Homo sapiens: one gene and its partners. The protein of the gene in region 1 purifies or fractionates together with the protein of each later gene. This does not show direct contact. Each region holds a gene or a part of one and is shown in the gene's direction. Other genes may lie near its edges. The genes, in order: TPR, GLRX, PRDX3, TMOD3, SRSF11, NUP133 and COLGALT1.

Region 1 (3,500 bases):
AAAAAGCTTCTACACAGGAAACAAGAATATTAAAAGGCAACCTACAGTTCTGACATAGGTAGCTTGAGATAGATATTTCTAACTCAAAAACATGTAGATTGCCATTGTTTTGCTGGGAAGCAGTTTGACAAGTTTTTTGTTTTTGAGACAGGGTCTCACTCTGTCACTCAGGCTAGAGTGCAGTGATGCAGTCTTGGCTCACTGCAACCTCTGCCTCCCGGGCTCAAATGATCATCCCACCTCAGCTTCCTGAGTAGGTGGGACCGCAGGCATGTGCCACCATGTCTGGCTGTTTTTTTCTACTTGTAGAGACTGGGTTTCGCTGTGTTGCCCAAGCTGGTCTTGAACTCCTAGACTCAAATGATCGGCCCAGCTTGATTTCCCAAAGTGCTGTGATTACAGGCATGAGCCACTGCACCTGGCTGACAAAATATATTAAAAGTTTTAAGTAATTCAATTTTTAGGAATCTTTCTTGAAAAATAATTTGAACTAAGGTGTAAATACAGTGATATTCTAAGTTATTAGGACATTTCCATGTGATTAAAAGAGATATGAGAAAAATTTTCATAAGCCTAGTAAAAATGTTTTAAAAATCCAAAATTTAAATAGAAACATTGGAATTACGGGTATTTTTTAACTTTGATGTGTAAGTTATAAGAGAAAGCCAGTCATTTACACTACAGCTGATGTTAACTAAAGTGACAATTCTATGTTCGCTTTCCTGTATTGCTCTACTTGATTTTCTTACTTATTACTTCTTTATATGACAGAGCCAATTTACAAGAACAAAGGAAGAATTAGAAGCTGAGAAAAGAGACTTAATTAGAACCAATGAGAGACTATCTCAAGAACTTGAATACTTAACAGGTATGAAGAAGTGCTTGTAGCTTTTAGCTCCATTCCTTTATTTTTCTTCTGTTAGTGCTAGGAGTTAGTGCTCAGCCCATTTCTGTTGCTGATATTTTTTTGTTATGGTTGAGTATAGAGTTGTCATATCCTATTATTTCTCCTACTCATTTATCTTTAAATCATTGTCAAGTGTTTAAAGAAGTGTCTAGAAAGTGCACAAGTGAAGAACATCTCAAAGAAGTAGTAATTTGGACCAGATTTTACATGCAAAGATTTTCACTACAATGCTGTACATAATGTCAAATTGGAAGCACTTTAAATATTTGCAAAGGCTGAACTACTGTTCTTTATTTCATATGGACATCCTTGCTATATAATAAGCATTCAATATAAGAACATATACTCAGCCTATATTTATAAACAGACTGAAGGAGGCAGAGACATAAAATACATAAACATAGACTGTAGTATATAATACAGCTGATGTAGTCAGGTGAACTTGACTCTGAAGCAGTTAATGGTAAGAAGTTTCCTTTGGTGCCCAGGCACGGTGGCTGACGCCTGTAATCCCAGCACTTTGGGAGGCTGAGGTGGGTGGATCATGAGGTCAGGAGTCCAAGAGCAGCCTGGCCAAGATGGTGAAACCCCGTCTCTACTAAAAATAACAGAAATTAGCCAGTCATGGTGGCACGCACCTGTAATCCCAGCTACTTTGTAGGCTGAGGCAGAGAATTGCTTAAACCCAGGAGCCGGAGGTTGTAGTGAGCCAAGATTGCGTCACTGCACTCCAGCCTGGGCGACAGAGCTAGACTCCGTATCAAAAAAAAAAAAAAAAAAAAAAAAGGTGTTTTGGGTTCTTTTTTTTTTAATGGTTTTTGAAATTTTTTTATTTCTATAAAAGAAAGGATTTTCAGATATTTATATCATTATACAATAATATTCCATTAGTTAAGTATACTTTCCCAGTCTCACAAGAGTTCCTTCAAAATACTTGAGTGTGTTGATCAACAAGTGGTAGTTACAACTAAACGAATTCATAAAATCTAGATATTTAATAGATAGTTTTTTAAAAATGTGTATTCCATATTGAGTAGGTTTTTATATTAGTGCTTTTTAGCTTAATGATTATTTATAAAATTTTAATAGGTCTTTGGATATATATCAGGAAAATTAAGGTTAACGTTGAATATTTAGCTTAACACACTGTATTTAAAATAAATTTGGATAATTCACAAGTTTGGATACACAAATTTCAATTTTTTGTCATATATTTGTAGAAATTGAATTTGTAATTAACTATGGCAGAAACAAGTTAAAATAAGAGAGTTGAGAACTACAGTTGACCCTTAAACAACACAGTGGTTAGGGTTGCTGATTCCCCCCACAGTTGAAAATTTATGTGTAACTTTTGACTCCCCAAAAACTTAACTACTGCTGTTAACTAGAAGCCCTACCAATAACATACACAGTAGATTGTCATACGTTTTGTCTGTGATCTGTATTATATACTGTGCTCCTTCAATAAAGTAAGCTAGAGAAAAAAATGTTAAGAAAATCATAAGGAAGAGAAAATACGTTTACTGTACATTAAATGGAAGTGGATCATCACAACCATCTTCATCCTCCTTGTCTTTACATTACCTAGGCTGAAGAAAAGGGGTTGGTCTTGCTGGGTCAGGTTGCAGAGGTAGAAGGGGAGGCAGAAGAGGGAGGCACACTCAATGTAACTTTACGAAATACAGCCTAATTTCTGTCTGACTTGCTTTTTCATTTCTCTAAAAATGTTTCTATACATTACCAATCTTCCTTCCACCGTTTGCTATAGTTTCAGTGCCCATGTAAGAGAAGGATCCATGTCATAAAAGAAATCAAAAGCAGTCTTGGGTAATCAGAACCCTTCCACCAGATAGTCTGTTACCAATATGTTTTCTGACACTGCTAGTTCTACATTCTTTTTCCACATCGTCTGGCACTGGTTTGGAAGCACTCATCTCCATCCAGTCATCTTCTGTTAATTTATCTGATATGGTGGCTATTAGCTCTTGGATTTCTCCAAGGTCCGTATCTTGAAACCCTTCATCCCACTTTTTTTGCCATATCCACAATCTCTTTCATGATTTCTTTGATTGGCTCTGTTACAAATTTTGTGACATCATGCACAACATCTGGAGAGTTTCCTCCAACAGGAATTTATTATTTCAGCCTTGATGGCTTTCATAACTTTTTCTGTAATGAAAAAGAAGGGATGGCCTCTTCAGTGTGTTATCCTTTAAAACTTTCATGATATTTTCTCTGTTGGGGTTCTCTTCCACAGTGTTGACATTTTCTTTTCACAAAGTATCATCTCTATTGAGCCGTAAAGGTCCTTATGACTCCTGATCTAAAGGCTGAATTAGAAACATGTTTGGGAGCAAGTAGACTGCTTTGACACCTTCCATGTTGAACTCCTGGGTTCTGGGTGGCCAGGGACAGTGTCTAAAGTCAAAAGAACTTTAAAGGCAGCCCCTTGGCCAGGTACGGTGGCTCATGCCTATAATCCCAGCACTTTGGGAGGCCGAGGCAGGTAGATCACCTGAGGTCAGGAGTTCGAGACTAGCCTGGTCAACATGGCAGAACCCCATCTCTACTAAAAATACAAAAATTAGCTGGG
Region 2 (3,189 bases), on another chromosome or scaffold:
AAAGCAGATTGGAGCTCTGCAGTAACCACAGGTGAGTGGCAGGTGAGGTGCTGGGCCAGGAACATGGGAGACCGTGGAATTCTTCTGTCGTGGTTTGTTATACTGTATGACAGCATTCTGGTTGGGGGAAGAAATGATTTGGGGTGAGTTGAGGAATGGTGATGTCAATCACTTATGAATTTCACACTTTACAAAGAGATCGTGTCAATGAGAGAAATCCTTTCACTCAAGCTTCATTTAAGAAATATTTATTAAGCATGTGCCAGACACATGAGAATATAATGATGCATAAAATGATAACCTGGAACTTATATTTTAGAGAGGTAGACAGATCAAAAACAAGCAAATCCTGAAATAGAATAGAATAATGTGACAGAATATGTCATGGGGTGGGGAGAAAATTGAGCTAACATGGTAAGGGAGGGCCTTTCTCAGGAAGGGTTGAGCTGAGACCTGGTTAACAAGGGGACTGCTATGCAGAGATGAAGCAGAAGAGCTTTTCAGGCAGAGGGAATAGCAAGTGCAAAGGCTCTGAGGTGGCAACAGGTAAGGGATGTTCGTGGAACAGAAAGAAAGCAGGAATAGAGTGAATGAAGTGCAGTGAAAAGGAAGAATAGCGAGAAAGGTGGGCAGGGGCCAGAGCACCCAGGCCATGGTAAACAATTTGGATTTATTCAAAACGCAATGTGAAACACAGGTCATTTTGGCTTTACCTGTGTTCACTTGGCAAATCAACTCTATTTAATTGGCTTCCCAAAAGCCAAAACAAAGTTTTCTAAAATCAGTAACCTAAAGGAGATCTTTGGCTCTGTGGAAAACCACAGGGCGATGAACATTTCAGAAGGGAACCGTGATGGTTTTGGAGTCTGAGCTCCTCCCTCCCCCAGTTCCCCAGCACAGCTAGCGCTAGCTAGCTCCCAAGCAGGCCAATTCAGAGACCTGTACCCAGAGAGATGTAAATGCTGCTTTAGTTGAGGGAGAAATGAATGGTTCTTTAACCAAAATGTTCTTGGAGGGGTATCTATTGCCTGCTAATTAATAACTCATTTCTTGGGCAATGAGTATACATTATTTGTGATGGTTACTCAGCATAGCAACAGAAGGGGGAAAAAGGTCTGAAAAAATACCACTGATTTCTCTGAAATGAAATAGTCAATGCTATAAATCTTCTAATCAGAATTCTACGATATCATCACAGCAGGTGCACCCTATGTCTGTCTGAGTTCACTTCCTGGCCTTACCACTGGTACTAAAAGCACTCAAACCCAATTAATGGTTTCCTATTCTGGGACATGTTTAGCAATTTAGGCTTAGATTAAGAATGAGAGAAGATGGGAAATGTTATTTCTCCAACTGCTTCTATTTTGGTGTGGGCATTAGAGTCCCCCATATTCAGAAAGTCTCCTTATTTGCATTTGGCCTTTTCCTTCAGTGTTCTATGCTGTCAGTATTTTACTGGCAGCTGCATCTCAAGGCCATCTGCAACAGAGTGTGTTTAAATGGCAGGTGTAAGTGTTCTGGTAATGAGAGAAAGGAAGGATTTTGCCTTACAAGGAGATCCCTTCTTTCTTTCCTGGCAGAACAGGCCCCATGCTGACGTCCCTCCTCAAGAGCTGGATGGCATTGCAAATGATGACAGCACTTCTGGTGGATGAATTTGGGGGCACAAACAGCTTTTTTCCTCTTTTGGCTCAGTATTTAAAAGTGGACCAACTTGCTCTTAATCACAGGGCCAAGAAGGTTGACGGGCCATCTTGGTTTTCTTCTGGATGTGCTCTTTGGTTTTCAGAAGACTGTGACAAGTTCTGGCCCAGGATTCGCTCACTGACCCTCAATTGTCCTCTTTGGCATGCGTTTCTTACTGTTCTCCATGTGTCGGCATGTCTCTACCTCTAAGCCAGTGTTTTTCAACTATGTTTATCCAGACTCCTTCTCCACAATGATGAATCCACAGTTGGTTATCTGCTACTGCCCATTAGCTAAAATCATTTTGCTGCTTGACTTTATGGAGTTTGTATTATGAAATCAGTGGGTATTTTGAATGTGTTCTTTCTAACTACATGCATCTCTCCACTCAACTCCACCCCATCCCATCCCACCTTGAAAATCACTGCTCTGAACCAGTGTTCTCCACCTTGTCCTCCACAGATCTCATAGGAAATGTTCAACAATTCTGTGAAAGGTCACAGGACCCAATTGGAGAAATCATATGAAAAGCATAGTTGGTCTTGGTGTCATATGGATCAGAGGCACAAGTGCAGAGGCTGTGGTCATGCGGAACACTCTGTTATTTAAGATGGCTATCCAGATAATCCTGAACACTGTGTATTTATTTTATTTAGACTACCAGCAAAGATTAAAGCATGAAATGTAAAACATCTGATAAAACTTACAGCCCCCTACACCAAGAGTGTATCTGTGAAAGAGCTCCTACACTTTGAAAACTTAAGAATCCCTTATCATGAAGTTTGCCTGTTCTAGAATTGTAAGATTGTTAATTTCCTTCAATCTCTAGTGACAACACTTAATTTCTTTTCTAATAAAAAAAACCTATAGATGATTCAGTGATTTTTGTCCAATTCATTTGCATGTTCTCAAGACATTAAGGAATGTTATGCGAAATACACTAACTTAAAACTGTGTTTATATTTGGCCCTGCCATTATAAATAAAGACACGTGCTGCTGTCACTCACTGAGTACAAATGGCTGATATAATTTTGAAATTTCATATTGAAATAAATGCCAGCCCTGGCTTACTGAATAATGCTTAGGGTTTAATAACAGTCTTTTTCATTTCATATTCCTTTTTGCCATTTCCCACTTAAGGCCCTTGTACTTCTCGCTTCTTTCTTTTGTGGGCCCTAACCACTCCCTTCAACCAGGATTGCTATGATAATTGTTCAGTTTACACCAGGATTGCTATGGATAATTGTTCAGTTTACACACTGCACAATATGAAAGCCCTCCCACCGGAGGTTATAGTATCTGATCCACTCTGGACCACTTGCCTGCACTTTCACACTTCTTTGTCCATGTTCATTGTGTTTCTTTCTCCTGAGATGCCTTTTCTTCTTTGTTTTACTTTGAAACTCCTCCTCGTTCAAGGCCTGATTTACAGATCATTTCCCCTATATTTTCTCTCTCCTCTCATGGCCTTTTGACTGAAAAATCATCGTTCCCTCTTCTGG
Region 3 (3,500 bases), on another chromosome or scaffold:
AGCGAAACTCTGTCTCAAAAAAAAAAAAATCACTGAAACCACCTCCTAACATGTCTCCCCCTTCCTCCTGCTCCTCTTTCCCTCCTGCCGGACTAATCTTCCTAAAAACCCCCATCTCAGCCAGGCACTGTGGCTCACGCCTGTAATCCCAGCACTTTGGGAGGCCGAGGCTGGCAGATCACGAGGTCAGGAGATGGAGACCATCCTGGCTAACACGGTGAAACCCCATCTCTACTAAAAATACAAAAAATTAGCCGGGCGGGGTGGCGGGCGCCTGTGGTCCCAGCTACTCGGGAGGCTGAGGCCGGAGAATGGCGTGAACCCAGGAGGCAGAGCTTGCAGTGAGCTGAGATTGTGCCACTGCACTCCAGCCTGGGCGAACAGAGCGAGACTCCGCCCTTGACTCTGTTATCTTTCCTGCTAAGAAGACCCAGCAGCCTAGTATTTAAGGACTGTTGCAACATGGCCTTCAACCATTCCTGCCTGCTGCCTGCTCTTCACTCCGTACCCTTAGACACTCTCTGTTCTCATTAGACTGCCACACGCTGCTCCACACACATGTCCTGTCTTCCTTCCTGCTGTTTCCTACATGCCATCTGCCCCATCCCATCTAGACTTGACAAAATCTGAACCATATTTAAAATCCATCTCTAGTCTCATGTCTTCCTTAATTCTATCCCTACTTTGTCTTCCTCTTTTTAGTTTCTGTAGCAGTTGGAATTGAATTTGTGCACAATCTAAAACTATAGAAGGAGAAATTACAGTTGGCCCTCTGTATCTGGATTCTGCATCTGTGGTTGGTTGAATCGAAAATATTGGGAGGGAAAAATGGATGGTTGTGTCTATACTGAACACAAAGTCTTTTTTTCTTGTCATTCCCTAAACAATACAGCTTAACGACTATTTACGTAGCATTTACGTCGTATTAGGTATTATGAGTAATCTAGAGATGATTTAAGTATACTGGAGGGTGTGTGTGGATTATATGCAAATCACCACTTTATGTAAGAGACTTGAGCATCTGTAGATTTCGATATCCTAGAACCAATCCCCCCACAGGTGGCAAAGGATGACTGTGCCTAAGATGTACAGTTGAACCGAATGTTTTGATTTATACTAAGCACTTTATACTACTAATTAATTATGAGAAGTTTAAATAAAATCATAGGTGCTTGACATAGCAAATGATGAACTCCATATGAGTGTGGGTTTTTTTTCAGGTTCCTCATGCCATGCACCTGCTGTCACCCAGCATGCACCCTATTTTAAGGGTACAGCCGTTGTCAATGGAGAGTTCAAAGACCTAAGCCTTGATGACTTTAAGGGGAAATATTTGGTGCTTTTCTTCTATCCTTTGGATTTGTAAGTGTAATTTCTATGATGCTTTCGTGTCATTCTGAGAGCAAGCACATATCCTGTTCCCACACTGAATTGTCTATCCCTAGATACCCTTGTGAAAGGAAGGATTCTTTCTGACCCTTTATCACTGATGGCCTTGTTGATTACAGCTGGGATCTGTAGCTTGTTTACAAGTGATAAACTTCGGGGGTGGGGTAGGACAGCTTTCTTTATAGTACACCTCTGTGCTCTGGAGCACTGCTTCCCTAAGCCAGTCTATGAAAAAGTTTTCACTGGTCTGGGGAAAAATGAGAAAAGTAGGCATAATAAAATGATTTTTTTCAAAAAGCAACTTTATTGAACTGTAATTTTTTTTTCTTAAAATATGTGTTCCCTTTCCCCATTTTTTGATACAATTCCTAAAAATAAAAAGGTGAGGGGAGGTAGTAGTACTTTTGCCAGCACAACACTATAGTCCAGTGAGGATGGTAAACCATTTTGCCTTTTTTACCCTTAGCAAGTTGAACTAGTTGTTAGACCACTAATTGTTAAAATCCTTGTTTTTAAATGCTCTAATGAGAATTTCTATCCTTTTTTTCCAGCACCTTTGTGTGTCCTACAGAAATTGTTGCTTTTAGTGACAAAGCTAACGAATTTCACGACGTGAACTGTGAAGTTGTCGCAGTCTCAGTGGATTCCCACTTTAGCCATCTTGCCTGGATAAATACACCAAGAAAGGTATGGCATTGTACCCCTAGCTTTTGCTCTTATAAACTTGCTTGGAAGAATCTAAATTTCTAGCTATGCTGCTGGACTATCAAGATCAAATTACGCAAGGGTTGGGTTTTTTTTTTTTTTTTTTTTTGAGACGGAGCTTCACTCTTGTTGCCCAGGCTGGAGTGCAATGGCACAATCTCAGCTCACTGCAACCTCCGCCACCTGGGTTCAAGCGATTCTCCTACCTCAGCTTCCCGAGTAGCTGGGATTACAGGCATGTGTCACCACCCCTGGCTAATTTTGTATTTTTAGTAGAGACGGGGTGTCTCCATGTTGGTCACGCTGGTCTCGAACTCCTGACCTCAGGTGATCCGCCCACCTTGGCCTCCCAAAGTGCCGGAATTACAGGCATGAGCCACCACACCTGGCCTACTCAAGGTATTTTTTTTATTATTACTCTTCCATGTCTATGTTTGAGAAAATTAGCCTTTAAAAGAATGCTTTAAGAATTAGAAAAAGCAGCCGGGCGTGATGGCTCACGCCTGTAATCCCAGCACTTTGAGAGGCCGAGACAGGTGGATCACAAAGTCAGGAGATCGAGACCATCCTGGCTAACACGGTGAAACCCCATCTCTACTAAAAATAAAAAAAATTAGCCAAGTGTGGTGGTGGGCGCCTGTAGTCCCAGCTACTCGGGAGGCTGAGGCAGGAGAATCGCTTGAACCCAGGAGGCGGTGGTTGCCATGAGCCAAGATCGCACCACTGCACTCCAGCCTGGGCGACAGAGCGAGACTCCATCTCAAAATAAATAAATAAATAAATAAAATAATAAAGAATTAGAAAAAGCATCTGTAGTCCCAGCTACTCAGGAGACTGGGGTAGGATGATTGCATGAGCCCAGGAGTTTGAGGCTGCTGTGAGCTGTGATTGCATCACTGCATTCCAGCCTGGTGACAGCGAGACTCTGTGTCTTAAAAAAAAAATTGGAAAAGGTCTATAGTATTAGCCGGGTGTAAATCTTCCTTCTGCTCCTTTCTAGCTGTGACCTGGAACAAGTTACTTAGGTTTTTCTTGCCTCAGTTTCCTCATTTTGATAGTGTCTTCTCCAGGGTGGTTTCGAGGAGGCAGTAGGTTAATAGAGTAAGCAGTGCTTGGCCCGTTGTTGAATTACTGTTACCTATCGCCGTTACTGTTGGTCTCAAACATTGTGGTACGTGGTCAAGAATGTTGTGAGGCCACACATTCTAACAGTCATGTTTGCATTTTGATTAGAATGGTGGTTTGGGCCACATGAACATCGCACTCTTGTCAGACTTAACTAAGCAGATTTCCCGAGACTACGGTGTGCTGTTAGAAGGTTCTGGTCTTGCACTAAGGTAAGATCCTGTTTCTGATGAACTTAAGATTATTTTTCATGTTTAGTATCATTCTGCTTCTTAGGGGAT
Region 4 (3,500 bases), on another chromosome or scaffold:
ATTTACCCTCATTTTGGCTTCACATGATCCAGCTACAGCAAGACCCAAATAAGAAAAGATGTTACAGCGACATTGATGAAGTTGGTCTAACACAGAAACTGAAAGAGTGAGAGAGACAGAAGAAAGAAGCATGAAGTAGGGAATGAGGAGTAGAGAATGTCACCAACGGGGAATTACATGTGACCAAAAAATCAAAAGATTATGACTGGGTACATATGAAAAATAGGTACAGGCCAGGTGTAGTGGCTCACACCTGTAATCCCAGCACTTGGGGAAGCCGAGGTGGGTGGATTGCTTGAGCCCAGGAGTTTGAGACCAGCCTGGGCAACATGGTGAAACCCCATCTCTACAAAAAATACAAAAATTAGCCGGGCATGGTGGCACACAACTGTAGTCTCAGCTACTCAGGAAGCTGAGGTGGGAAGATCAATTGAGCCCAGGAGGCAGAGGTTGCAGTGAGCTGTGATCCTGCCACTGCACTCCAGCCTGGGTGACAGGGCAAGACCCTGTCTCAAAAAAAAAAAAAAGAAAGAAAAGTAGATACAGTCATCCATGGGTTCAACCAACTTCAGATCAAAAATATTTGGAAAAAAATTCTATGAATTTCCAAAAGCAAAATCTGAATTTGCTGTATGCCAGGTACTATGTTGAATCCACAAAAATGAAGTGATGTGTAGGCATTGTATTAGGTATATTAAGTAACCTAGAGGTAATGAAAAGTATACAGGAGCATGTGTGAAGGTTATATGCAAATACTATGCCATTTTCTATAAGGCACTTGAGCATCTGAAGATTTTGGTATCTGCAGATGGTCCTGGAACCAACCCCCAACAAATACTGAGGGACAACTGTACATGTGAGAGCTATGGGCTACTGTGTCAAACTGAAACAACTAATGACAAACATTAAGGCAGTTAATTAATGTATTTATTTATGGCATGTACAATATGTAGTAGGTACTGTATCAAATTTTAATCTCTTAATATTTTCTCTAATTTCTAGGCTTTTGCAGAAATGCTGAAAGTGAACAAAACTTTGAAGAGCTTAAATGTGGAGTCCAACTTTATCACGGGAGTTGGGATTCTGGCACTGATTGATGCGTTAAGAGATAATGAAACCCTGGCAGAGCTCAAGATTGACAATCAGGTCAATGTTCTACAATAATAACGTCGAGGAAGCTACAGCCCACGCTGCTGTGTAGGGCTTGGCGACTCAGGATGGGGATGGGAGGCGGGCTGTCAGGGATCCCTGTTGGAAGATGCTGGGCTGAAAGGAGAGCTGACATTTGGGGTATCTAGAATATTAACTCAGTGTATATAACAGTGTATACAATGTAAAGGTGTATACTCTCCCTAGATCATTTTAAGAGAATTTAGATGGCTATCTAGTTTGAACTGAGAGGACTCTTACATGTGACCTAGTCCACCTTCCAATTTTTCAGCTCTGTGCTGGCAAGGTCCACATTGTAGGGTTTTTGTAAAAGGCAGAGAGATACATGTTAGAAATGTTTCCATCCAGAGTAGCTATTAATTTTTTTATTTGAAAAAATAACTCCATTTATTTGAAAAAATATTTGTTAAATGTCTCCTTCAGTCCTTCAAAGTAAATACATTTTGTAAACTATGAAGGTGGAAAAGAGGATTATGTCTTAAAATTTAACCCAGTGCTTCATAATCCATGTTTTTCATTTTTTTATTGAGATATAATTACATACAGTAAAATTCATTTTCTTAAAGTATACAGCTAAATGGTTTTTAGTATATTTGTAGAGTTTTGCAGCCATTACCACTAATTCCAGAACATTTTCATTACCCCAAAAAGAAACCCCATACCCATTAGCAGTCACTCCCCATTCACCCCTCTCACCAGGCTCTGGCAATCACTCATCCACTTTCTGTTTCTTAGGATTTGCCTATTCTGGACAGCTTATATCTGTGGAATCAAACAATATTTGATCTTTTTGTGCCTGGCTTCTTTCACCTGGCATAATGTTCTGGAGGTTCATCTGTATTGTAGCATACATCAGGACCTCATTCTTTTATGACTGAATAATATTCTATTCCATTTGGGGTGTGTCCACATACGGGCCACTAGAAATAATGCTGCTGTGAACATTCATTACAAACTCTAACATGGACATAGATTTTCATTTCTCTTCAGTATATAGCTAGGAGTGTATTGCTGGGTCACATGGTAACTCTATGTTTAACTTTTTGAGCAGCAGCCAGTTTTCCACAGTAGCTGTACCATTTTACATTCCTCTCAGCAATGTCCCCATTTTTCCACATTCTTGCCAACACTTGTTATTATCTATCTTTTTTATTATACTTATCCTAGTGGGTATGAAGTGATATGTCATTATAGTAATTCACACTTTTTTGATGTCTATATGATCATATTACTGAACTTTAAAAAGTTTAGTGTGTGTGTGTGTGTGTGTGTGTGTGTGTGTGTGTGTGTATAAAGTTCCAGTGAGGCTGTGGTGATGATTGGGTCAATGGGTAAAATCCCCTTCCTGTGACAAACATTTCATAGCTTTAAGTGACCAGTTTTCTACAACAAACAATTTGTTCTCAGTTACAAATCAGTACTTGGAACTACTGAACTATGTATATGTTGTAGGAATTGGGAACATTTAAAGAGATCAAAGAATTAGCATGTGCCTGAATGTCTTAATTTACCTTGAAAAGTATTTTGATCTAGTTTATTAATATTGTTCTTTTTTTCTAATTACTCCAGAGGCAGCAGTTGGGGACAGCTGTAGAATTGGAAATGGCCAAGATGCTTGAGGAAAATACAAATATCCTTAAATTTGGATATCAGTTTACACAGCAGGGACCACGAACCAGAGCAGCTAATGCTATAACAAAAAACAATGACTTAGGTAAGACATAGTATCGATCAAGTTTCTGAGTTCTATCACAAGCTAACGTATTGGGGGAACTTCTTTCCCTCTTAAGAATAAATTCTAACAGAGAAGTTATTTGGCCTTTGTTTCTAAAATCTGCATGGTCCTTTATATACTGATTGAATTCAAGTTCAATTAAAGTGAGGTTGTGATGATTGGGTCAATGGGTAAAATCAGCTTCCTGTGACAAGCGTATTTCATAGTTTTAAGTGACCAGTTTTCTACAACAAACAATTTGTTCTCAGTTACAGATCAGTCCTTGGAACTATTGAAACAAAGATTTCAACATTATCGGAAAGTTTTTTGCCCTTTTAATCAAGCGGACCCAGATAGAAATTCAATTTTATATGATAGAATGTGGATATAGAAATATATAAAATAGAGAATAATTATATTTCTCACCCAGGTTTTTTGTTGTTGATTTTTTTTGAGACGGAGCCTCGCTGTGTTGCGAGGCAGGAGTGCAGTGGCGCCATCTCGGCACACTGCAACCTCCGCCTCCCAGGTTCAAGTGATTCTCCTCCCTCAGCCTCCCGAGTAGCTGGGACTACAGGCGTGCGCGCCGTGCCCAGCTAATTTTTGTATTTTTTTT
Region 5 (3,500 bases), about 120 Mb from region 1:
GGCTATGTTGTAGTAATTTTTTTTCTTGTTTAAACTTGTCAGAGCTTTAAACAGTCACTGAATGACTAACTCCTTTATCCATTAATGGATTTCTTTTATATAGTTCAAAATAGAAAATAGATTCACAAGAAGCCAGTACATTATCAGTGTGTCATAGAGTCAGAGTAAATAGTCATGAAAAGATAAGAATGTGGTTTATAATTTTTCTATCATGGAAATTTTTCTTTTATTTTAATTTAGCTAACCTTTTTTTCTGAAGTTCTTTGTAGAGGTCTTTTGCATTATATTGGCTAAGGTGTTTTGAGTTTTACATGTTTCTTTATGTCAAAAAGTCTTAAAGGAGACATAATTCTATAATACCTAGACTGTTCAGCCTCATAATCTTTAGATAACTTGCTAAAGCTGCTCTATCCAATACTGTAGCTACTGATGTCACCGGTTTTTGTTTTGTTTTGTTTTGTTTTTTGTTTTTGTTTTTTCTTTTTTAATGTGGCTACTAAAAAATTTATGTTTCATGGCATGTAGTCTGCATGGATTTCTGTTGTTCAGTTTTCTGCCTAGAAAATATCGGTCATTTATTGTTTTATGTATTCTCATTATTCTTATGTTTTATTTTTACAGTCTCTTGCTGCAGATCAGTTGCTGAAGCTTATGAGTACTGTTGATCCCAAGTAAGCGTTTTTTCTTTGTTTTCATTGGTGATGTGGTATCTGAATGTCTACAGAATTAGAGTTTTTTTGATAGCTTATAAGAAAGTTATCAAGTTATCTTTTCTCAAGACAAGCAATATGTATTGTTACCTAGAAACAAGGAGAGAAATACAGAAGTAAGTAAGGTCCTCTAAACTATTTTGTTTCAGTGTCATTTGAGTCTTGAATAGTAATTGTAAATGACTTATACCTGGATGATAGCAAAAGAGCTAATAAGGGACAACTTCGTTTGAAGATCAGAGGCTGAGTCCTGAGGATAGTAGGAGTTAGAGGCAAAGCTGAGGGAATCACTATCCCAGAGCAAAGTAGTATTACATATTATATAATTAATAGCCAACATTTTATTTTAGGTGCTTTTGATAAGTGCTCTTCATGCTGTCACAGAAATTGTTTCCGACTTGATGATGTGACAGATTCATCAGTTTTTTTCACTGGTTATTTGTTGGCATAATAAATTTGAACTTTATACCTTTTCCCCTTAACTTGGTGAAAGTCACTATCAGTAAGTGAGAGAGCATGAAAAGGACAGAATCGTTGGACTTCAGTAGTTAGTGGACTTTTTTCTTAGAAATTATCTAAAAATAAAACCAAGCATGTACCCATCACCCAGCTTATAAAATAAAATAATACCAATACAGTTGAAGCTTCCTATATACCCATTATTTATTACATTTCCTGTTCTGCCCACAAATAACTACTAAATTTGTTGTCTATAATTTTTTTTTCTTTCTTCTTTCTTTTTCTTTTTTTTTTTTTTTTTGAGACGAGTCTCACTCTGTTGCCCAACCTGGAGTGCAGTGGCGCAAACTCAGCTCACTGCAACCTCCGCCTCCCAGATTCAAGCAATTCTTTTGCCTTAGCCTCCCAAGTAGCTGGGACTATGGGCACAAGCCACCACATCCGGCTAATTTTTTGTACTTTTAGTAGAGACGGGGTTTCACCGTGTTAGCCAGGATGGCCTCAATCTCCTGACCTCATGATCCACCCGCCAAGGCTTCCCAAAGTGCTGGGCTTACAGGCATGAGCCACCATGCCCGGCCTACAATTTTTTTTTTACATGTGTAAACCTGTAAGGGGCATCTTTAGCCTTTCCACTCAAGACTTCATGTGTAATTTTGGTAGGCCTTTGGCCTCTGCCTCAGTTCCTCCCCACCTACAAAGTAAAAGGTAATGCTCTTCCCCAAAAAATTACTATGTCATAAATTTTTTTTTTTTTTTTTTTTTTTTTTTTTGAGACGAAATCTCACTCTGTCGCCCAGGCTGGAGTGCAGTGGCGCGATGTCTGCCTCCCGGGTTCAAGCAATTCTGCTGTCTCAGCCTCCCGAATAGCTGGGACTACAGGCGCCTGCCACCATGCCTGGCTAGTTTTTTGTATTTTGAGTAGAGATGGGATTTCACCGTGTTAGCCAGTATGATCTCGATCTCCTGACCTCGTGATCCACCTGCCTTGGCCTCCCAAGGGGCTGGGATTACAGGCGTGAGCCACCACACCGGCCCAAAAATTTTTAATTTATATGAATAAAAGTTCTTAGCATCAGCATATTTTCTTGTACTGGCATTTCTAAAAATGTGTTTGTTTATGGAAAGTTAATGGATGTTCAGCAAAATAGGTATTTTTCTAATTCCAGATGACTCTTAGTCATTAAAACAAATACTTGTAAATATTCAAAACAGTGCTATGCTATATGTTGTTTACCAAAGTTATCATGGAGTCCTCCCCTCCCTTTTTTTGAAGGAATATTTTGCTAAAATAATGTTATATACTTAAGTATTTATTTGAAATGCTCGTGTGCATTTTAAAATATTTCAGATCCCATTTCTTGGTTCTGTTTCAGGTTGAATCATGTAGCTGCTGGTCTCGTTTCACCAAGTCTGAAATCGGATACCTCTAGTAAAGAAATAGAGGAAGCTATGAAAAGAGTACGAGAAGCACAGTCCCTAATTTCTGCTGCTATAGAACCAGGTAAACAATGTTTATGCAATTTTGTTGTGTGATTCTTAGCAAAAATGATTTTGACATAAATGTGGAATTGTGTTGAGTGACACCCTAGTCGTTTAAAATGTTGTAAACTCTGATAAAAGATTGTATAGTGGAGTGCCACTCAGACGTATTTGGAGACAATTCTGGTGGTCACAGGAGTACCAACTGCATCTAGAGGGCAAAGGACCAACATGTTGCTAGATATCCTGCAACAAACAGCACAGCCTTCCACAGCAGTGGTTAATCTAGTCCAAAATGTCAGTAGGATTATCTAATACTTGAAACGATATTTTGTTTTTCTTATTATTTATGTTTTTCTAAGTTGGGATAGCCTAATTTTAATTTTTTTCATTGATCAAGAGAACCTAGTGAAAATGCTTCTGTTTAAAATGATATTTCTTTAAAGAAAATTAGTTGTCTTCTTTGCAGATTGTCTTTTTGAGAGTAAATGAATAGATATCATATTATCTGCCCATATATATTTAGATCTATGGCCCTGGATTTTCTTTCTTATAAATATCTTGTTCATTAATAAATGGGAATGTTTTTTAATGTGCCTATTGTTAGGAAAATAATTTTAAAGTATAATAGTGGATAAACTGATACCAAATGCTTTATATGTATTATGTTATTTAACCAGGAAAATGTCAAATAATTAGCCACAGTTACATGGCAAGCAGTAGGAACTTTTAGATAGCACAGCCGGGTGTATGTAAAGTTTATGACACACCGTGTTCTAACTGCTGTTTATATTGAAAATATATGATTAAAGTGACTGAATGTAGTTTCTTTATGAACTGATGTTTTTA
Region 6 (3,500 bases), about 43 Mb from region 1:
AAATTAAAAAAGCAAATTATAAGCAAGTCAACAAAATATATGTCTAATTGATGTTTATAAACTTACTCTGTCATGTTTTGTTAATCATCTCATGGGTAGTGTTCAGATTTTTACAAAGAGAATTGGTGAAATATTTTTATGAAATAATGTACAAAAATGAATTTAAAAAATCATACAAATATTTTTGTTTTACTTCTTGTTAAATGTAATCTTAAATTTAACTTTCAGTCTGAAGACCTGATTTTGTGTCAGTTGACGGTCCCAAACTTTTCAAACCAGACTGCCTATCTGTATAACGAAAGTGCTGTCTATGTGTGCTCCACAGGAACTGGGAAATTTTCTCTTCCCCAGGAGAAAATTGTCTTTAATGCACAAGGTACAGTAGCAGTTTTAGAAAGCATGATTGGTGAGCTCATTAGTCATTCTGAGTGCTTTTTTTCTCTTTCCCTGAATGTCACTTCAAGCATGCTGCTTTCAAATGTTTCTGAGACATTTCATACCACAACTACAGCAGCTGAAGCCATAACCCTACTAAGAAACCAAAAGGGTACTAGAATTTCCAAACTATTATATTTACAGACAAAGATAGTAACATTTGTTCCAGGAGAAGATGCCAAGAAGCAAAAAACTATTGCCAAGAGAAGTAATTGCTTATTCCTAGTTAGTAAAAGTGACATATTCTGAGTTGATGCTTTAACTTTTCCACACCCCTAGATAAGAAGAGCTTCAGGTGCTGGACTTATGCAGGGGGGCTGGTCAGGATTGAAGAAGAACCAAGCAGATACTTAGCTGAAGGGGTTGGGCAGAGGACAGAGTGCAGGTAGGCAACAGCATGGAACCCAGGTTTTCTAGTCCCAGCACAAGAACCTTGACAGAGGGTGGGTAGGATGTTACTAAGGTGCCAGGTAGGCTTAGACCTTTTTTTTTTTTTTTTTTTTCCAGTCCCCATTGACTGATGTGGTAAGTTAAAGTCAGAATTAAGAGAACTCCACAGGATTGAAAAAGCTCTTCTTCTGAGTTTTGCAGAAGGAATAATTTTCTTTTTTGGCTTACTAGACTGACTGCTGTCTGGCAAGGCTAGTTTTTATTGTCCTTAAAGCTGAAAGACACAGAGCCTGCTTCTTCAGATAGCAACCGGTTCTTAGCATTTGATTCTGGGATGTAAAGGATGAGTTCGAAGTAGGACTAATGTTGTAAAGGAAAAAATGTGCTTAATATATCATCAAGATGATTTTCTGCTTAGGGTGGTAGCTTTTACATAGCATTTTGTTGTTATTGTTAGATGTATTTGACTCTGTTTTCCTTTCTTTTAGGAGATAGTGTTTTAGGTGCTGGTGCCTGTGGTGGTGTTCCTATCATTTTTTCTAGAAACAGTGGACTGGTGTCTATTACTTCAAGGGAAAATGTGTCTATATTGGCAGAAGACTTGGAAGGGTCTTTAGCATCTTCAGTTGCTGGACCAAACAGTGAGGTAATGTGATTCGATAAGAATTTGAAGTTTTTATGTTATTTATTTTTTAGAGATAGTGTCTCACGCTGTCACCCAGGCTAGAGTGCAGTGGCACAGTCGTAGTTCATTGCAGCCCCAAACTCCTGGCCTCAAGCAATCCTCCTGCCTCAGACTTCCCAGTAGGTGCCTGGCTAATTTTTTGTTTTTTGGTTTGGTTTGGTTTTTGAGACAGAGTCTCACTCTGTTGCCCAGGCTAGAGTGCAGTGGCATAATCATAGCTCACTGCAGCCTCACCTCAACCTCCCGGGATCAAGCAGTCCTCCCCTCTTAACTTCCTAAATAGCTGGGACTACAGACATGCGCCATCTCACCTGGCTAATTTTTTATTTTTTGTAGAGACAGGATCTCCTTATGTTGCCTAGGCTGGTCTCAAACTCCTGGGCTCAAGAATCCTCCCGCCTCGGCCTCCCAAAGTGCTGGGATTACTGGCGTGGAGCCACCATGCCCAGCCTAATTTTTAGTTTTATCAGATTATTTTATACAAATGGTCTCAAAACTGAGACAGTTTTCAAAGACGTAATGATGCAGACATTAGTTCTTTTTATCTTCCTCATCCCTTCTGTCCTCTTTGCCTGGAGCAACTACATTTAAGCCTTTTAGTGATTTATTCTGGTATTTTTCTCCATATATCTAAGTAATGTACATATATTCCTGTCTCCTGATGCATCTGTTGATTTTCTACTACAGAAAATGAGGTTTTGGGTTACCTTATACTCCTTCCTCTGCCTTTATCATTCTAACATAAATTTTTTTCATTGTAATGACAATGTAAATATTGTTTATGGTTTGCTGATCCCAAATACTGATTACATGTCCTTTATTATAGAACTTTGTGTGACTCTTGGAGTGTATAATGACCTCGTTTTGTATTTTCTCACTTTCCTTTCATATGTGACTTAATCTTTTTACACACTCCAGGAGTTCTGTAGAGTGCCCCTCAATGTAGTTTTTCCCAAAGTCAAGTCTCCAGAAACCTTCCATCTGCACAGCTGTCATCCCAGAACTTCCCTTTTCTATTGTCCTCAAATCCTCAGGACCTGTCCTCTGCACCATGCATAGGTGGCCTCATCTCCTGTCAGCGGGGCCATTTCCCATTCCTTCTGCTTTCTATCTTCCTTTGTTGTAGTTAGTATCACAGATATTTCCAAGGAGCTTGTATTTCTGTTTCTTTTTATTCTGGGATGATTTTTTGAGAGGAATAGCCAGGTAAAAATTACCAATTTTATTCTGTTGTCTTGAAACCTGAAATATCCTATCCATAAGATTTTTATCATTCTTTTACAGAAGACTAAAAATAATTAATACTGTTTGGGGTAATTTCCATTTGAATAGTGTATGAAATATATAGACTACCTCTGTAATTCAAATTAAAGTGATTAAGTGTAGTTTTAAAGGAAAGAAACAATTTTTAACTTTTTTTTCTTTTCACAAAAGGGATTAATACCTTGCATTTTGTATTTTGTAATTATACAAAATTATACAAAGTACAAAATACCTTGTATTTTGTAATTAATACGATTACAAAAAAGGATTAATATCTATTTTGTAATTGTATGGTTATTATAATACTGTTATACATTCTGAAGCAATTTTATAGTATTCCATTTCTTTAAAATTTTTCTAAACCGTTGTTTAAATTTGTAATCAACCATTATGCTTAGGTAGTATACACTGTGATGAGTCGTGTAAGAGCAAACCTATAAAAAGATTCTGTTAATTATGATGAAATGTCCAAATTATTTTACTTACAACATAATCCCTGAATTACCTGTACCTTTTCTGTATGACTTTGGTTGATCATTTGATGCTATTTATAGTGTTTCAATAAGTATATGAATAATTGGTATGGACCAAGCTTGTCCAACCCACAACCCATGGGCTGCATGCGGCCCAGGATGGCTTTGAATGCAGCCCAACACAAATTCGTAAACTTGCTTGAAACATAAATTTTTTTTTTTTTAACTCATCAGCTATCATTAATGTTAGTGTA
Region 7 (3,500 bases), on another chromosome or scaffold:
GGTGTGAGCCACCACATCCAGCCCATCTCTTAAAACAAACAAACAAAAAGCAGAAAAGAAAAAGCAAAGAGTCAAGTGAGCAAAGTGATTACGATGCAGTGGTGGCTAGAGGTCCAACTACACAGGCCAGTGGAGGCACTTGGTGTCTACTTGGAGGGGAATGGGGAGCCATGGAGGGTGTGTGAGCAGGGGAGGTCTGTGTTCTGATTTGAGATTTTCAGAAGCCTCTGTGGACCAGGCGCGGTGGCTCATGCCTCTAAATTCAGTACTTTGAGTGGCTGAGGCAAGTGGATTGTTTGACTTCAGGAGTTTGAGACCAGCCTGGTCAACATGGTGAAACCCTGTTTCTACCAAAATATAAACATTAGCTTGGCATGGTGATGCGCGCCTGTAACCCCAGCTACTTGGGAGGCTGAGGCAGGAGAATGTCTTGAACCCGGGAGGCAGAGGTTGCAGTGAGCTGAGATTGCACCACTGCGCTCCAGCCTGGGCGACAGAGTGAGACTATGTCTCAAAAAAAAAAAGCCACACACTAGCAGGAAGCTGGAGTAGAGGCCCAAGCAGGGTATCAGCGATTGATGGACAGGCCTGCATGGGGTGGGGGCCGTGGAGAAAGGCAGGGGGTTCAGGATGCGTCACGAGGTGAAGGAGACAGGTTCTGCTTTGACACTGGATGTGAAGGTGCCAGGGAGAGAGGAACGGGGACAGTGCCACATCTAGGGAGGACGGATGGAGCTCCTGAGGGGACCCTTTCGCTTGGTGCCTTATCAGACCATTTTATAGGTGAGGAAACAGGCTGACGGAGGGGACATCTTGCCTGGTGGGGTGTCAGAACTGGCAAGGAGGCAGAGAGGTGGATCTGGAGCCTTCCAGAGCCTTCTGACACAAAGCTGCCTTGTCCTGCCTCTAGGATTTTGCTTTTGTGGTTTGAGGTTGCCTGGCTTTAGCTTTTTTTTCCCTCAGCAAACCGGGGTGGAACTCAAAGTGCTGGTTCAAAACTCAAAGTGGCTTTTGACACAAAATAATATTTTCGTGTTTCTTTTTTTTTTTTTTTTTTTTTGAGACAGTGTCTCACTCTGTCGCCCAGGCTGGAGTGCAGTGGCGCGATCTTGGCTCACTGCAGCCTCCACCTCCTGGGGTCAAGTGACTCTCCTGCTTCGGCCTCCCAAGTAGCTGGGACTACAGATGCTTGCCACCATGCCCGGCTATTTTTTTTTTTGTGACGGAGTCTCACTCTGTCGCCCAGGCTGGAGTGCAGTGGTGCGATCTCAGCTCACTGCAAGCTCTGCCTCCCAGGTTCATGCCATTTTCCTGCCTCAGCCTCCTGAATAGCTGGGACTACAGGCGCCCGCCACAACACCCGGCTAATTTTTTGTATTTTTAGTAGAGACAGGGTTTCACCGTGTTGGCCAGCATGGTCTCGATCTCCTGACCTCGTGATCCACCCGGCTTGGCCTCCCAAAGTGCTGGGATTACAGGCGTGAGCCAGCGCGCCTGGCCCGACTAATTTTTTTTGTATTTTTGTAGAGACAGGGTTTCACTATGCTGACCAGGCTGATCTCGAACTCCTGACTTCAGGTGATCCACCCACCTCGTCCTCCCAAAGTACTACTGGGATTACCGGTGTGAGCCACTGCGCCTGGTCACAAAATTATATTTTTGTAACTGGGGACTTTGGAACCCATATTGGAATGTGAAATAGTTTGTCTAATGTTTTAAAATGATTGTTTGAAGGTCCCCCTTTCTCTCTCTTTTTACAAAAGCTATGGATGTTACTTGCAGGTAAAAAAAATAAATAAAAATATACGAGCTGGGTGTGTCTCACGCCTGTAATCCCAGTGCTTCAGGAGGCCAATGTGGGAGGATCATTTGAGGTCAGGAGTTCAAAACCAGCCTGGGCAACATAGTGAGACCCCCCCCATCTCTACAAAAACTAACAAAAAAAAAAAATTAGCCAGGTGTACTGGTTTGTGTCTGTAGTCCCAGCTAATTGGGAGGCTGAGGTGGGAGGATTGCTTGAGCCCAGGAGTAGGAGGCTGCAATCAGCCATGATTGTGTCACTGTACTCCAGCTTGGGTGACAGAGCGAGACCCTTTCTTAAGCTTCGTATATGTGTATGTGTGTGTGTATGTGTGTGCGTGTGTGTATACATATATACATATATACGTGTATATGTATATATATCTATATATGTATATAAACATATATACGTGTGTGTGTGTATAATATAGATATACATATGAAACAAGAAAGAAAAACATCTACTTTTTTTTTTTTTTTTTTTTTGAGATGGAGTCTCATTTTGTCACCCAGGCTAGAGTGCAGTGGCGCCATCTCGGCTCACTGCAACCTCTGCCTTCTGGGTTCAAGCAATTTTCCTGCCTCAGCCTCCGGAGTACCTGGGATTACAGGTGCCCGCCACCATGCCTGGCTAAGTTTTTGTATTTTTAGTGGAGATGGGGTTTCGCCATGTTGGCCAGGCTGGTCTTGAACTCCTGACCTCAAGTGATCACCTGCCTCAGCCTCCCAAAGTGCTAGGATTGCAGGCGTGAGCCACCGCCCCTGGCCAGCATCTAAATTTTAATTGTATCTCCTGGAGAGATTCACTTTCTCCTCTTTCTTGTTTGTTTTAATTGAAGTCAGTTCACATATATATTTATTTGTTTTGCAACCACCACCTCTAATTCTAGAACATTTTCATTCCCCAGAAAGAAAACCCTATTCCCATCAGCAGTCACTCCCCAACTCCCCATTCCTCTCCCCTAGGCTCTGGCAGCCACTAATCTGCTTCCTGTCTACGGATTTGTCAATGGAATGTCACACTATATGGCGTTTCGTGTCTGGTTTCTCTCACTCAGCATTGAGTTTTCAGGGTTCATTACAGCCTGGATCAGTGCTTCCTTCCTTTGTATGGCTGACTCTTATTCCGTTGTCTGGGTGGACCACGTTATGTTGATCTCCTCATCCGTTGATGGACACACTTCAGTCACTTCCACCTTTTTTGGCTGTTGAGACTTTTTTTTTGAGACAGAGTGTTGCTCTGTCGCGCAGGTTTGCAGTGCAGTGGCACGATCTCGGCTCACTGCAACCTCCATCTCCTGGGTTCAAGCGATTCTCCTGCGTTAGTCTCCCGAGTAGCTGAAATTACAGGCATGTGTCACCATGCCCGGCTAATTATTTTTATTTATTTTTATTTTTAGTAGAGACGGGGTTTCACCGTGTTGCCCAGGCTGGTCTTGGACTCTTGACCTCATGTGATCTGCCTGCCTTGGCATCCCAAAGTGCTAGGATTACAGGTGTGAGCCACTGCACCCGGCCTGGCTGTTGGGATTCTGACATGAACATGAGCGTACAAAGACCTGTTTGAATTATCTGGGCATGGTGGTGCGCGCCTGTATTTAATCCCAGCTACTCAGGAGGCTGAGGCAGGAGAATCATCTGAACCTAGGAGGTGGAGGTTGCAGTGAGCCGAGATCACACCACTGCACTTCAGCCTGGGT

Evidence for each region.
Region 2: the proteins of TPR (region 1) and GLRX fractionate together in Homo sapiens (co-fractionation; one large-scale study listed by BioGRID). This does not show direct contact.
Region 3: the proteins of TPR (region 1) and PRDX3 fractionate together in Homo sapiens (co-fractionation; one large-scale study listed by BioGRID). This does not show direct contact.
Region 4: the proteins of TPR (region 1) and TMOD3 fractionate together in Homo sapiens (co-fractionation; one large-scale study listed by BioGRID). This does not show direct contact.
Region 5: the proteins of TPR (region 1) and SRSF11 fractionate together in Homo sapiens (co-fractionation; one large-scale study listed by BioGRID). This does not show direct contact.
Region 6: the proteins of TPR (region 1) and NUP133 fractionate together in Homo sapiens (co-fractionation; one large-scale study listed by BioGRID). This does not show direct contact.
Region 7: the proteins of TPR (region 1) and COLGALT1 fractionate together in Homo sapiens (co-fractionation; one large-scale study listed by BioGRID). This does not show direct contact.

What each region holds. Positions count from the first base shown.
Region 1 is NC_000001.11:186,365,254-186,368,753, reverse strand, and holds part of TPR (nucleoprotein TPR), read left to right. Parts: intron 1-771; coding exon 772-868; intron 869-3,500.
Region 2 is NC_000005.10:95,813,349-95,816,537, reverse strand, and holds the end of GLRX (glutaredoxin-1), read left to right. Parts: coding exon 1-25; 3' UTR 26-31; exon of another isoform or gene 32-42; intron 43-1,580; exon of another isoform or gene 1,581-2,148; 3' UTR 2,149-2,689; downstream 2,690-3,189. UniProt on the Homo sapiens protein: Has a glutathione-disulfide oxidoreductase activity in the presence of NADPH and glutathione reductase. Reduces low molecular weight disulfides and proteins.
Region 3 is NC_000010.11:119,172,313-119,175,812, reverse strand, and holds part of PRDX3 (thioredoxin-dependent peroxide reductase, mitochondrial isoform a precursor), read left to right. Parts: intron 1-1,220; coding exon 1,221-1,362; intron 1,363-1,940; coding exon 1,941-2,076; intron 2,077-3,327; coding exon 3,328-3,431; intron 3,432-3,500. UniProt on the Homo sapiens protein: Thiol-specific peroxidase that catalyzes the reduction of hydrogen peroxide and organic hydroperoxides to water and alcohols, respectively. Plays a role in cell protection against oxidative stress by detoxifying peroxides.
Region 4 is NC_000015.10:51,899,153-51,902,652, forward strand, and holds part of TMOD3 (tropomodulin-3), read left to right. Parts: intron 1-1,002; coding exon 1,003-1,146; intron 1,147-2,739; coding exon 2,740-2,884; intron 2,885-3,500. UniProt on the Homo sapiens protein: Blocks the elongation and depolymerization of the actin filaments at the pointed end. The Tmod/TM complex contributes to the formation of the short actin protofilament, which in turn defines the geometry of the membrane skeleton.
Region 5 is NC_000001.11:70,234,880-70,238,379, forward strand, and holds part of SRSF11 (serine/arginine-rich splicing factor 11), read left to right. Parts: intron 1-621; coding exon 622-671; intron 672-2,545; coding exon 2,546-2,673; intron 2,674-3,500. UniProt on the Homo sapiens protein: May function in pre-mRNA splicing.
Region 6 is NC_000001.11:229,484,342-229,487,841, reverse strand, and holds part of NUP133 (nuclear pore complex protein Nup133), read left to right. Parts: intron 1-228; coding exon 229-376; intron 377-1,313; coding exon 1,314-1,471; intron 1,472-3,500. UniProt on the Homo sapiens protein: Involved in poly(A)+ RNA transport. Involved in nephrogenesis.
Region 7 is NC_000019.10:17,562,149-17,565,648, forward strand, and holds part of COLGALT1 (procollagen galactosyltransferase 1 precursor), read left to right. Parts: intron 1-3,500. UniProt on the Homo sapiens protein: Beta-galactosyltransferase that transfers beta-galactose to hydroxylysine residues of type I collagen. By acting on collagen glycosylation, facilitates the formation of collagen triple helix. Also involved in the biosynthesis of collagen type IV.